Linked DNA regions of Homo sapiens. The protein of the gene in region 3 purifies or fractionates together with the protein of the main gene of each other region. This does not show direct contact. Each region holds a gene or a part of one and is shown on either strand. Other genes may lie near its edges. The genes, in order: CYP24A1, MCCC1, CBR4 and ZNG1B.

The links.
Region 1: the proteins of CBR4 (region 3) and CYP24A1 purify together in Homo sapiens (affinity purification with mass spectrometry; one large-scale study listed by BioGRID and IntAct). This does not show direct contact.
Region 2: the proteins of CBR4 (region 3) and MCCC1 purify together in Homo sapiens (affinity purification with mass spectrometry; one large-scale study listed by BioGRID and IntAct). This does not show direct contact.
Region 4: the proteins of CBR4 (region 3) and ZNG1B purify together in Homo sapiens (affinity purification with mass spectrometry; one large-scale study listed by BioGRID and IntAct). This does not show direct contact.

Annotation. Positions count from the first base shown.
Region 1 is NC_000020.11:54,171,135-54,175,353, reverse strand, and holds the start of CYP24A1 (1,25-dihydroxyvitamin D(3) 24-hydroxylase, mitochondrial isoform 1 precursor), read left to right. Parts: upstream 1-1,367; 5' UTR 1,368-1,774; coding exon 1,775-2,032; intron 2,033-2,254; coding exon 2,255-2,445; intron 2,446-3,683; coding exon 3,684-3,777; intron 3,778-4,219.
Region 2 is NC_000003.12:183,068,437-183,072,006, reverse strand, and holds part of MCCC1 (methylcrotonoyl-CoA carboxylase subunit alpha, mitochondrial isoform 1 precursor), read left to right. Parts: intron 1-649; coding exon 650-797; intron 798-886; coding exon 887-1,008; intron 1,009-3,570.
Region 3 is NC_000004.12:168,990,163-168,993,315, reverse strand, and holds part of CBR4 (3-oxoacyl-[acyl-carrier-protein] reductase), read left to right. Parts: intron 1-2,987; coding exon 2,988-3,153. UniProt on the Homo sapiens protein: Component of the heterotetramer complex KAR (3-ketoacyl-[acyl carrier protein] reductase or 3-ketoacyl-[ACP] reductase) that forms part of the mitochondrial fatty acid synthase (mtFAS).
Region 4 is NC_000002.12:113,440,682-113,444,251, forward strand, and holds part of ZNG1B (zinc-regulated GTPase metalloprotein activator 1B), read left to right. Parts: intron 1-669; coding exon 670-756; intron 757-3,085; coding exon 3,086-3,182; intron 3,183-3,570. UniProt on the Homo sapiens protein: Zinc chaperone that directly transfers zinc cofactor to target metalloproteins, thereby activating them.

The DNA.
Region 1 (4,219 bases), on a different chromosome or scaffold from region 3:
AAGATTCATAAAGTTTAGTATATATCAATAGCTATTATTTTTATTAACATAAACAGTCATTAGCCCCTCCAGACAAATCAGAAATGATGGTGTTAAAGCTTAAGTTGGACTGCAAAAGATTTTTAAGAAACAAACTAGAGGCTTACAAAAGAATTTACCAGGGAAGGATTTGCCAACACTTGGGGCAAAAATGACTGAGACACGTAATTGAAAAGCAGGGCGAGGAAACAGAATGTCCCTCCCCTCCTCCCTGGCTGGTGGTAGTTTTGTATTGGATCAGGTTGAAAGGATTCGAGCCACTTTAAAACAATCAACAAAAATCTCCAACTTCCGTTCCTGAATTAGCAAAGCGAGTTCTACTCTTGCCAGCCGCGGTAACTCTAGAAATTGTGTATGTTTGTCACTGGACCTGCCTAGGACGCACCTTGGGGGAGAGGGGGAGTACTGGGGGCGGTGGTTTCAAGCTCTGTGTGCCCCTCCTTTGCACAAGGTAGTCGGTGTAGAAGAACAGAGGCGGGCAGTGGACATAGGGGAGGTGGCCCAGCCTGAATTCAAGCATCGTTGGTGCAAGCCACGCTCTCAAGGCGCATTTCCTAACTTCCTAAAGAAGTAACAACAGCAACTAACTTTTATTGACTGTTGACTATAGACAAGGCTTCGTTGTTGCCGCTTTACGTGCATTAATTCATTTAATCTGCAAAACAACCAAACATGAAACAGCAGGAAGGAAATTCTACAAACTCCCCTTCTTGCTCAAGTTAAGAAAGTCTCCTCTTCTGGTGCATTTCAGTAAGACTCAAATCCTCCCCACCCTGGGAGGCGCAGAAAGCCAAACTTCCTCCAAAAAAAAAAAGGCAAAAAAAAAAAAAAAATCACTTCAGTCCAGGCTGGGGGTATCTGGCTCCCCGGGAGGCGCCCGGGCTCCCCGGGGCCCTGGCAGACGCCGGCAGCTTTTCTGGGCCCGCACTCGGGGACCTCGCCCGCCCGGCATCGCGATTGTGCAAGCGCCGGGCGGCAACCACGGCCGCCGCTGCCGGCTCCTGCCCGCCGGGGGAGGGCGGGGAGGCGCGTTCGAAGCACACCCGGTGAACTCCGGGCTTCGCATGACTTCCTGGGGGTTATCTCCGGGGTGGAGTCTGCCGCCCCCACCCCACCTCCCGCGCCCAGCGAACATAGCCCCGGTCACCCCAGGCCCGGACGCCCTCGCTCACCTCGCTGACTCCATCCTCCTTCCACCCCCCCTCCCCTGGGTCCCGCGTCCCTCGGAGTCTGGCCAGCCGGGGGCCACTCCGCCCTCCTCTGCGTGCTCATTGGCCACCCAGGGCATGCTCTGTCTCCATAAATGCATGGTCCCTGGGCATAGGAACATGGAGAGGGACAGGAGGAAACGCAGCGCCAGCAGCATCTCATCTACCCTCCTTGACACCTCCCCGTGGCTCCAGCCAGACCCTAGAGGTCAGCCTTGCGGACCAACAGGAGGACTCCCAGCTTTCCCTTTTCAAGAGGTCCCCAGACACCGGCCACCCTCTTCCAGCCCCTGCGGCCAGTGCAAGGAGGCACCAATGCTCTGAGGCTGTCGCGTGGTGCAGCGTCGAGCATCCTCGCCGAGGTCCTTTCTGCTGCCTGTCCCGCCTCACCCCGCTCCATCACACCAGCTGGCCCTCTTTGCTTCCTTTTCCCAGAATCGTTAAGCCCCGACTCCCACTAGCACCTCGTACCAACCTCGCCCCACCCCATCCTCCTGCCTTCCCGCGCTCCGGTGTCCCCCGCTGCCATGAGCTCCCCCATCAGCAAGAGCCGCTCGCTTGCCGCCTTCCTGCAGCAGCTGCGCAGTCCGAGGCAGCCCCCGAGACTGGTGACATCTACGGCGTACACGTCCCCTCAGCCGCGAGAGGTGCCAGTCTGCCCGCTGACAGCTGGTGGCGAGACTCAGAACGCGGCCGCCCTGCCGGGCCCCACCAGCTGGCCACTGCTGGGCAGCCTGCTGCAGATTCTCTGGAAAGGGGGTCTCAAGAAACAGCACGACACCCTGGTAAACCCCTTTTCGCGCCCCTGACTCTCTCCTCCCTCTTCCGCCCTCCCAGTGGCGCTCCAAACCCTCCCCGACATGCGCGCCTCGGGCGCATGGTGCGCTTCGGCGTCTGGGCAGGGAGGGTCCCCGGTCCCCTAGGAGGAAGGAGGCGGGAGGAGGGAAAGCGCTTCGGGCACGGCGGAGGATGCGCGCTGACACCGCGCTGTGCCCGGCCGGCTGCAGGTGGAGTACCACAAGAAGTATGGCAAGATTTTCCGCATGAAGTTGGGTTCCTTTGAGTCGGTGCACCTGGGCTCGCCATGCCTGCTGGAAGCGCTGTACCGCACCGAGAGCGCGTACCCGCAGCGGCTGGAGATCAAACCGTGGAAGGCCTATCGCGACTACCGCAAAGAAGGCTACGGGCTGCTGATCCTGTGAGTCCAATCCGAGGGACCTGGGCATGCGGCCAGACCTGATGAGCCTGACGGCGCCTGGAAATTGTGAAGAGGCGGAGTTAGAGTTCCCTGGGGTTGGAAGCTTCTTACGTAGGGCGGATACCAAAGCCCCTCTCCCGTGCCATCGCAACCCTGAGCTCTTGTACAGATTAGAGTCGGTCCACGGAAAAGCCGTGCTGTGCACCCAGCACCTGCGTTCTCTCTGGCAACAGGGCAGGGCCACACCCTCCCATCAAAGAAACGCCAAAACAGGGTTGTACCAACTGTGGTGTTCAGACTCTTGGGCAGGATGAGGTTCTGAAGTCAGCGTACCAGGCAAACATCTTATACAAACAAAATTATCCCTTAAAACTCCCTGAAACACCTTGTAAGCTCAAAAGCGAGGAGTTAGCCTCTTTGGCTTTTTACAGTGACATTTTCTGCAGAGGATTGGGGGACATGCCTTATTTCTACTTGTAAAGGTGGAATAAGGAGGGATATCAAAGTTGTGTTTTAGGTCGACAAATGCTACTATGGGATGTGATTCTTCTGCTTTTTAGTTGTTAGCATTTAACAAGTTAGCACCTTTATTTACCCCCAAACTGTAATGCCTAATCGTTATATTTTCCAGGATATAATGACTGGAATTAAAAACCCTATTAATTCACGGTGCTTCACAGGCTGTATGGTCTGCTATGGGGCAGGTGCCTACAAGTGCACGATCGCAAAAGGCTTTTTATTACTCCAGTGACTCTCTGACTGTATGTTATTATTTGGAGGCGATGGCAAAATTCTAAATCTGAGATATTTTGTAAATATGAAGCCCACACCAATGAGTTGAAAGAAGACAAGATTCTTCCCTCAAACAGATCTGAGTTGCTGGTGATGGGGTGTTCACATGCCCCCTTTTACCGCTAGGAATTGTCCCCAGGCCTCCCAGCCCCACTCCCTGCAAGGACACCTCAAAATCCCTGAACCCAAATTATCTGGACTTCAACTTTTTGGTGCAATCTTTGACTAGGAGGAAAGGTGCTTTTTCATCCTATTGTCAAACTATTGTCAAAAGATGATCACTATTTTATCCCAAATATTCTGATGCTAATATTCTCTGGCTATTTCTTGGCATGATTCTCAGTGTTTGTTTGATTTTATGGTTCCTGAAGTTGCAGCTGGAGTATTTCTGCATCTCCTTCTTTTCTTTTCAGTGTGCTCTAAATGTATTCCTGCTTCTCTCACAGGGAAGGGGAAGACTGGCAGCGGGTCCGGAGTGCCTTTCAAAAGAAACTAATGAAACCAGGGGAAGTGATGAAGCTGGACAACAAAATCAATGAGGTCTGCAGGCTGGGGCCAGCTTTCCTGGGGCTCGTGGGGACATAGGGATATTGGTGGAGCTTCAAGTCACAGCTACAAAGAACAAAGGAAAAAAGAATGCAATTCGGGTGATTCAAAGTGGGGGTCTTCTCTTTCTCTCCATTCCTTCCTACAGCCTCCTCCCCACCAAACCCTTATTTCTCCCTCCTCCACCCTCTTTTAAAGTCATATCACAATGAGGGAGCAATGGAGAGTGTGGACTTTGGTATTCTACAGCCCTGGATTTGAACCCCAGCTTTCCACTCCCTGGCTATGAGACCTGGCTATATACCACTTACCTTCCCTAAGCCTCAGTTTCCCCATCTACAAAATGGGAGTAACAGTTCCCACCCCACGGGTTTGCTGTGAGAATTAAATGAGATAACATTGTAAAGTTCTTAAGTAGTGATATTTGAGCTGGGTT
Region 2 (3,570 bases), on a different chromosome or scaffold from region 3:
GGTCCAGCATCTTGGGAGGCTGAGGTGGGAGGATTGCTTGAGCCCAGGAGATCAAGGCTGCAGTGAGCTGTGATCACACCATCATACTTCAGTCTGGGTGACAGAGTAAGACCCCATCTCAAAAAAAAAAAAAAAAATTCAGCTGGGTATGGTGACACACACCTGTAGTCCCAGCTGCTTAGGAGGCTGAGGCAGAAGGATCACTTGAGCTCAGAAGTTTAAGGCTGTAGTGAAGTATAATTGCACCACTGCACTCTGGCATGGGCAACATTGTGAGACCCTGTCTCTAAAAAAAAAAAAGAAATAGTTTGTTTTACCTATAATATTTTAATTCTACCCTTCTGTTGTCATAGGCATAAGTTATTTATCTGTGACATAGAGAAATTCTATTGAGTTACAGAAAATACTTAATGTTTCTAATCAATATATTAGTATTTTGGGATTAAAAAATAGGGTGAGATGAGCTACCACATGAAATGAGGGAAACTAACTAATAGACATATTAAATTTGTATTATTTTGTCGTCTCAGACTCGATGTTTTCTTTAAAGAGTTCCATTGTAATTTATAGACTGGGCTATATTTATGTTTGTCTTGAATGAAATAATTTGTAGAATTTGGGGCATGTTGTTTTCTTTCCCACTCTAAAGCACATCCAAATCCATAATGGCTGCTGCTGGAGTACCTGTTGTGGAGGGTTATCATGGTGAGGACCAATCAGACCAGTGCCTGAAGGAACACGCCAGGAGAATTGGCTATCCTGTCATGATTAAAGCCGTCCGGGGTGGAGGAGGAAAAGTAAGATTGTGCATGCTTGTGTTTGCCAATTCAGGCTTGTCTTCTTTGTTTTATTTATGTTGTAGTCATAATCATCTTTTCTCTCTTAGGGAATGAGGATTGTTAGATCAGAACAAGAATTTCAAGAACAGTTAGAGTCAGCACGGAGAGAAGCTAAGAAGTCTTTCAATGATGATGCTATGCTGATCGAGAAGTTTGTAGACACACCGAGGTGGGTTGGCCTTATTTTTCTGACTCAGAGTTTAAAAATTAAATTATAAAAATAATGCATGCACATTCTATAAAATATAAAACTGTAGTAGTATATAAGTATATTATTACAAGTTTCCCAGTTCTGTCCTGTGATGTAACCACTGATTGTAGGATGGTATGCATTCTTCCAGCCATTTTCTATGTGAATAGAAACCTATATACATATACATACAGCAAACAAAATACATACCTAAGAACAGTGAATAGAATTTTTTTTTTTTTTTGGACGGAGTCTCTCATTCAGTTGCCCAGGCTGGAGTGCAGTGGCACGATCTCGGCTCATTGCAACCTCTGCCTCCCGAGTTCAAGCGATTGTCCTGCCTCAGCCTCCTAAGTAGCTGGAATTACAGGTATGCCCCACCATGCCTGGCTAATTTTTGTGTTTTTAGTAGAGATGGGGTTTTCCCATGTTGGTCAGGCAGGTCTCAAACTCCTGACCTCGTGATCCACCTGCCTCAGCCTCCCAAAGTGCTGGGATTACAGGCGTGAGCCACTGTGCCCGGCCAGTGAATAGAATCTTATACACTAATATTATATCACAGACATCTTTCCATGTCAGTAATTGTAGATCAGCCTCATTCTTTTTGTTGGTGACCTAGCGGTTCTATGATCTTGATATACCATTAATTCATTCAGTATGTTTCTTGTTGATGAAATTTAGGGTTTTTTTTCAATATTAGCAAATTATTGTAATAAATTCAGCTATATTTATAGAACTCTGTCAGTTGAGATGCTCAGGAAATGGAAGTAATTTTCTAAATTGAATTACAAGTGATATGCTGTTAATAGGAGCTAACACTTACATTGCACTTACCATGTGCCAGATTTTAAATATTTTACACATGCTAAATAATCTTGCTGTCCTTCTAATTCTAATATAATTCTTACAACAACCTCATTAGGTAAGTACTGTTTTCATTTTACAGGTGAGGACACTAAGCAACAGAATGGTTGTGTTGTGTTACTTTTCTGAGGTCACTCAGCTGTTAAGTAGTAAAGCTGAGATTTGAACCCAGGCACTTTGACTCCAGAGTTCATATCTAAGCCACTGCACTAAGCTACTTCTCTGGGTACCACTATAGCAAATGCAGTGTGAATCCCTATTTTTTTTTCTGGAATTTTATTTTCATGTTTGTTGTTTAAGATGCTGATTATAAAGTTTCTCATTTCATAGATTTTTATGACAATTGTTAAATTTTATATATATATGTGTGTGACCTGTAAGTCAAGTGAAAAGAATAATTTATTTGGGAACCATGACTGGAAAGAGATTTACCTTGAAGGTAACAGACTTGAAACTTCAGGCCCTTCTTTGACATTAATCTCTTCCAAGACCCTGACCTAATTTTGTATTTGCAGTTTTGTATTCTTCTCCTTAGAGAAGACCCCCAAATTGTTTTTTGTTTCAGGCCCTATAAAACAACTGTCCTGAGCATGGCATAGTAAATGAAATTCAATTAAGGCAAAAAAAAAGGGGGGGGCATTTCTAAGGTACATTGAAGGCTTCCTTTCAAGAAAGAATAGGCTAGCCATCCAAATCAGCATGCTCTTAAGTTAGAATTGTGGAGACATCAATAGCTTATTTCAGTAACTTATTTCAGAGACATCAATAGCTTATTTGAGTTATTATGTAACTCCATGCCTGCAGCATTTTTTGAATATGTAAGTTCTTTACTTATGAAATGTTAGCCATACATTGCGTCACATTATAATTTATTCCCCCAATAGCTGGAAAGCCCCTGGGAATCAAAGACCTGGTAGTATATACATTTTTATTTTTTGTATATATTGCCTGGCATACTACTTTCCTTGTAATAGGCATCAGTAATATTTTTTGAACTATAGAAGTAATATGAATACATTACAAATTTTTGGAAAATGCAGAAGATGGAAAACAACCCATAATTGTATTCTCCTAATTATTATTAATATTCTTATATACAGTCATGTGTTGCTTAATGACAGAGATACATTCTGAGAAATGCATTGTTAGGCAATTTCATTGTTGTGCACACATCATAGAGTGTCCTTACACAAACTGAGATAGTATAGTCAACTACACACCTAAGCTATGGTATAGCCTATTGCTCCTGAGCTACAAACCTGTACAAACGTTACTGTATTGAATACTGTAGGCATTTGTAACACAATGGTAAGTATTTGTGTATCTAAACATCTCAAAACATAGGAAAGGTAATGTATTGTGCTATTATGTCACTAAATGATAGGAATTTTTCAGCTCTATCATAATCTTATGAAATCACCATCCTATATGCAGTCTGGCATTGATGGAATGTCATTGTGTGGCACATTGTGTGACTCTATTTCTATTCTGTATTTCTAGTAATAACTTCTTTTTAATTGAAAGCAAGTTTATTAAGAAAGTAAAGGAATAAAGAATGGCTACTCCATAGACAGAGCAGCCCCAAGGGCTGCTGGTTGCCATTTTTATGGTTATTTCTTGATGATATGCTAAACAAGGGGTGGAGTATTCTTGCCTCCCCTTTTTAGACCATATAGG
Region 3 (3,153 bases):
TCGCTTGAACCCAGGAGGCGGAGGTTGCGGTGAGCCTAGATCGCACCACTGCATTCCAGCCTGGTGACAGAGTGAGACTCTTGTCTCAAAAAAAAAAAAAAAAGGAAAATACATGTGTCTAAAGACAGAAAACTTTGGACAGCGAGAACCCCCATGATATTGTTCTTAAGCTGATTGGATTGCCTGTTGATTATTGTGGCTCTTCACTGTAAATTAAGTTTCATTTATAGTTTGTTGGAAATTCTGCAGAGGCTAGTATCAATATCTGTGTTAGCTGCTTCTCCTTTTATTCTTGCATTCCTTCTGGCCTTCTCATTCTTCTTAAAGATGAGAGGATATGAAGGAAATATTGCTGACTTTTAAAATAAATGTGGTAAGATGTTATGGCAGAGAAGACTGTATTTCACTGTGTAATTTCACAGTGAAACATACATAATACAAAATTAGTTTTGTTATTCCAGGCCTTCATTACAGACTATCTGAAGGTAGTACTGTGTGCATTTTTTCAACAACTTTTTATCTGAATACAAAAATAATATATATATCTGTTGTAGACAGTTTGGAAAGAGCAGAAAAATATAAAGAAAATAAAAATCATTACCTGTAATTCTAGTATCTAATGATAATCACTGTTAATATTTTGGTATATAGTACTTTTTTCAGTCATTAGTATAAGTTCTTTGTTGTGTTTTTAATAGTGGTATAACTTAATTCATTTGTAACCTACATTTTATACACAAATGTTACTTTCAGATTTAAGTATCCTTCTATAGCATAATTTTTATTTTTTATTTTTATCTTATTCATTTATTTGTATAAATACAAATGAATGCAGGTGCAGATGCAGTTTGGTTATATGCATAGATTTCATAGTGGGAAGTCAGGGCTTTTAGGGTATCTGTCACCTGAATAACACCCATTGTACCTATTAGGTAATTTCTTATTCACCTCTGTCCCACCCTCTCACCCTTCTGAATCTCCATTGTGATCACATCCATGTGTACACATTCTTTAGCTCCCAGTTACAAGTGAGAACATATAGCATTATTTTTAATACCTGCATTATTCTGTTGTATGGCTGTATCATAACTTATTTAACCAGTTTCTTATTGAAAGACATTCAGCTTGTTTCAGTTTTTTCCTAATGAAAGTGTCATTCATAAGCTTCATGATAGACAAATCTGTGAATATTTTTCACAAGACTTTTAAGAAAATGCGTAGATATTTATAACTGCAAACCTAAAGAAAGGAAAGTTAAGTAATTACATAGTATTGCATAATAAACCAATGGCCTAATGTTAATTCTTAATTCATTGTTTACTTCACATTTATTATGGTACTTTAAAAGGTAATATATTTAGGTTTATCTATAGTTTGAGCTATAAATGATTTAGTTTTAACAGGCAATTTGAAAACTGTATTTTTGAGATTGCACATTAAATGTTTACTTCACACGTCATGTTGAAGTTTTAGTCCATCTATTTTTCATGACCTTAAAAATTTTTTTCTATTCTTTTCATGAGGATTAATATTGCTTTCTTTTTAAAAACCCAAATGATTGAGTAATATACAGGATACTGATTATATGGGCTAAGCATTTTATTAATACGTATTTGTATGTCCTGTATTAATCTTGTAAGATTTTCTTCATAAGTCTACAGTTCTCCCTGGTATGTATTTGTAGTTATTTAGGATTGGTTGGTTATATATTATGTAGTTAGTTCTTTATACTGTAGAACCTAATACATTCTTTAGAACATTTTCTTGGCAGGCTTTACTGAATTTGAATTTTCTATGTTTACTTGTATCAGAATTGGATATGACCGTAAGATTTTAAAATCCAGATATGGGAAATACTGGCCTTTCTAATCATCAGCTACCAAATCAGTTCATGTGACCACTTTTGTGATGCCTTCCTTCCCTTGACACTACTTTCTACTTTTCTATCCCTACCTAAGTGAAAATTAATGTATTCTATGATATTTTATATATACTTCTATCAGGATATTCACCAGACTTCTTTACGTTATAATCGGGTGTGCAAGTGACCATTTCCTCCACAAATCATAGGTTCCCCAAAGAGTGGAATTTTGTTTTATTCATGTTTGTGTCTACCTACTTATATTTTGCTAGGTGGGCCAGATACTTGGGGGTCAGATATTTTAGTGTCCAATAAATATTCATTGAGTTAAATTGTATAAAAATGTAGGCTTGGTGTCTTGATTACTAACAAAACTATTTTGTTTTGTTTTGCTTTTTTTGAGATGGAGTTTCACTCTTGTCGCTGAGGCTGGAGTGCAGTGACACAATCTCGGCTCACTCCAACCTCCACCTCCCAGGTTCAAGCGATTCTCCTGCCTCAGCCTCCTGAGTAGCTGGGATTACAGGCGTCCACCACCACCCCCAGCTAATTTTTTGTATTTTTAGTAGAGACGGGGTTTCACCATGTTGGGCAGGCTGGTCTCGAACTCCTGCCCTCAGGTGATCTGCCCACCTCGGCCTCCCAAAGTGCTGGGATTACAGTCATGAGCCACTGCACCTGGCCAACAAAACTATTTTATATAAACAAGGTTTATTAATAATTTCAAATTATAGGGTGGGTATGGTGGCTCATGCCTGTAATCCCAGCACTTTGGGAGGCTGAGGTGGGCCGATCCCTTGAGTCCAGAAGTTTGAGATCAGCCTGGCCCAACTCTACAAAAAGTACAAAAACTAGCCAGGTGTGGTGGTGCATGCCTATAGTCCCAGCTACTTGGGAGGCTGAGGCAAGAGGATCACCTGTGCCCCAGAGGTCCAGGCTGCAGTGAGTCGTGTTTGCACCACTGCATTCTAGCTTGGGTGACAGAGTGAGACCCTGTCTCAAAAAAAAATTTTTTTTTAAATAATTTCAAATTAAAATTTTCAGAAACAAATTTATTATTTTTTTTGAAATTCAGCAGATGTCTTAGTGTGTACCCTTTTCAACTAAACAAACATTTCTCTTTTAGGATTTGTACACACAGATATGACGAAAGACTTGAAAGAAGAACATTTAAAGAAAAATATTCCTCTTGGGAGGTTTGGAGAAACTATTGAGGTGGCACATGCGGTTGTGTTTCTTTTAGAATCACCGTATATTACAGGGCATGTTCTGGTAGTGGATGGGGGATTACA
Region 4 (3,570 bases), on a different chromosome or scaffold from region 3:
GCACTGTAATAGTAAAACACTGGAAACAAACCAAATGTCCAACAAAAAAAAAAGATAAAGAAATGATATAGTCATACAATTGAACTACAATACTATGCAGTTAGGATTTTCTTTTTTTCCTCTATGAATTTTAGTGTGTACGGTTCACAAGACTATTTTTTTTCTACTGGAGATTGACATATTGGGTTTTATATGCCACCTGCTGGATAAAGTTGGTATAGCTTTATGAATTTATCTTACTGAACATTCTGTCCATTGTTGACACTACCTGGCTCTATTCCCCATTTCATAAAAACTTTTATAGATTGTTTAAAGCATACTATAAGTAGCCATATAGTCAGCCTGAAGTTGCGTCTTGTTAATGTTGAAATAAAAGGTCATTATAAATAAAAGATTGTGTGTAAATTTTAGGGAAGGTTAGGCTAGGTTGAAGAAACTGTTTCAACTTGTAGGAGTGTTTGTAAATATTTATAAAATTTTATGTCTACATAAAGTATTTTGCAACAGGTTTCAAAGGATGCTTTAATCTTATCCTCTAGGATATTCTATACTAAAATAATATATGAAAAATAGCACGCAAATTCTCAAAAACGTTAGGATTCTTTATATGTTTTTTGTATCTTTAAAATTATTTTGAATTTTTTTATTTACAAAAAATATGTTTTATAGGTGCTGGGAAGACAACACTTCTGAACTATATTTTGACAGAGCAACATAGTAAAAGAGTAGCGGTCATTTTAAATGAATTTGGGGAAGGTAAGTAAAGTTCAATAAATGTCATGTTGCAAGATTTTGTGTGACTGTTTATTCCTCTGGTGAATTGCTATTCCATATTTAAAAATGAAAATGCAAGGTATTGTATTGATGTGGATAGCTTTAGAAAAGTTGGATTAATTTCTGTTAAGATTTATATGGGTTGAGATACTGAAATTAGTTTTAATAAAATTTTATTTTGTATAACTTTGGAATTCTTATTAACAGAATTAAACTACATTTTTACATGAAATAAATGACTCCAGAAGTAAAAATCTAGACATATGAAAAAACGTTTATTTTTTATTTTATTTTATTTTTTTTGAGATGGAGTCTCTCTCTGTCGCCAGGCTGGAGTGCAGTGGTGCAATCTCAGCTCACTGCCACCTCTGTCTCCTGGGTTAAAGTGATTCTCCTGCCTCAGCCTCCCGAGTAGCTGGGACTACAGGCGTGCGCCACCATGCCCAGATAATTTTTGTATTTTTAGTAGAGACAGGGTTTCACCATGTTGGCCAGGATGGTCTTGAGCTCCTGGCCTTGTGATCCACCTGCCTCGGCCTCCCAAAGTTGCTGGGATTACAGGCATGAGGCACCATGCCTGGCCAAAAAATGTTTTTTTTAGGAATTAGGAAGGCACTTTTGTATGGACTCTATTGCAACTCATGAAAAATACTTGAAAATGCTTCTGTTATTAGTTAACTTTGTTTAATGTTTATTATCTGCAATGCAGTTAAAACTCAATATTTTAAAAATAAAGGTAAACATATGGTCTTTATCCTCATGTATTTTAAGTTATCTGTGAAAATAAGTGTGCTTAACTTCTCAACTGAAATATTAAACTGTAGTCAAAAAAATAGCTCTAGACACAATACTTCTGTTATCTTTATAGAAGTTTTTCTTCATAAGTATGAATTGTAATCAAAGCTCACTTCTAGCCAAAAAACAATATCTATTAAATGATTTCTTTTAAAATGTACTATTTTTTTTCAGTTGTAAAAAGTAAAAGAGCTAGGTTTTATGAACAGGATGGGAAGCCAGTTATATTCGATTTCTGGTTTTAATAAACTAAAGAGAAAAGTGCTTTTTAGGCAAAAATCCTGAGATTTCTAATAACAGACTGTTTTTTTATCATCTTATTAAATAACCTATTGCACACTGATTACATTTATTCTTACTATTTTCTTTATTTTTTCCTGGATCATTTTCGCAATTTTATTTTTCACAGCATTCTCAATACTTTTCTTCATGTTTCCTTAATGTTCTGTATATAGTCCGAATTCTGTAGCAACCTCTTTAGAAGCTCTTTATTAATACCTAGCTGAAATATAAAAAATACGTAAGTGTAAAACTACTCGATTTTATGGGAGCTCATTTGCTTAGTGGGCTTTTAGAACTTCACCGTTTGGTATATTTCTTTATTAGAGGAAAAGTAAAACATTTAAAATAATTCTTATAGATAACAAGCATTTCAAATATAGTTTATTCTTTCTTAAGTAAGTATTGCTAGGAAAATATGTGAATTTGACTAAAAGTTTAGGTTTTTTTTTTTTTTGAGATGGAGTCTCGCTGTGTTGCCCAGGCTGGAGTGCAGTGGCACAGTCTCGGGTCACTGCAACCTCCGCCTCCCGGGTTCACGCCATTCTCCTGCCTCAGCCGCCTGAGTAGCTGGGACTACAGGCGCCCGCTACCACACCTGGCTAATTTTTTGTAATTTTAGTAGAGATGAGGTTTCATTGTGTTAGCGAGGATGGTCTCGATCTCCTGACCTCGTGATCCGCCCGCCTTGGCCTCCCTGTAAGTTTAATTTTTAAATGAGCACATGGTACACTGGCCAAAAACCTTCCTCAAGATGAACTAGGGTTTTTACTCATTGGGAATATTCAGCAGTTTGTCTAACAGAAACAATTTAGAAGAAGAATGAAAAGAAAAAGATAGATAAGGCAGTCTCTTAAGAGGTTGAAGGGCATACAAAATCCAGTATATAAAACATACTAGTCTATTTAGAAAGTTTACCCTGGACAAGAAAAAAATGCCTTCAAGATAGCTACTTTATTAAGAAATGGGGGTGGCCAAGTAAGAGGCCTAAGGAGGAAGTAGGTATGTTTATCAGTTTAGGATGTGTCTTTTTCAGGGCTTAAGTCATCTTAAATAAAAGCTAACATAATGTAGTGTACTGTAATTTAGATATCGAGGCTGCATGAATAAAATGAAAGAATATAAGTTATAAAATGCAGTTTCTGCTTTAAGATCTCCATTATTGAGTTATCCTCATCTTTGTTTTTTGTTGGCTAATGGACATAAGCTAAAGAGTGCTGTTTGTTAATTATTCTAGGAAGTGCGCTGGAGAAATCCTTAGCTGTCAGCCAAGGTGGAGAGCTCTATGAAGAGTGGCTGGAACTTAGAAACGGTTGCCTCTGCTGTTCAGTGAAGTGAGGAATGTGTTTACTGTGTACATGGTTTACTAGAAATGTTTATTGATTATATTTCCAGCTTTAATTTTCTTGAGTAATTTAACTGAATTTACACAGTTTGCTTCATTGTATTTTCAAACAAATAGAAAATAAACTTATTAGGAAGCATTTTCTTAAAGTGTTTCTTGCTGTCTTTTCTATCTGCTCTAATGTTTTGGTCCTTTTATTGAGTTTTTATTGCTTTTGATGTCAGGGCTTATTTAATCTCTAGTGCATGAAAGTCTCATATGTAAAAAATGATTATTCTGAATTTAATCTGTCATTGGTCATATTTCTAAGTGTTCAACCTTATAAAAAAAATAAATGACTATCAAAAAAGAGAAAAACCTTACATTATGTTCTACTA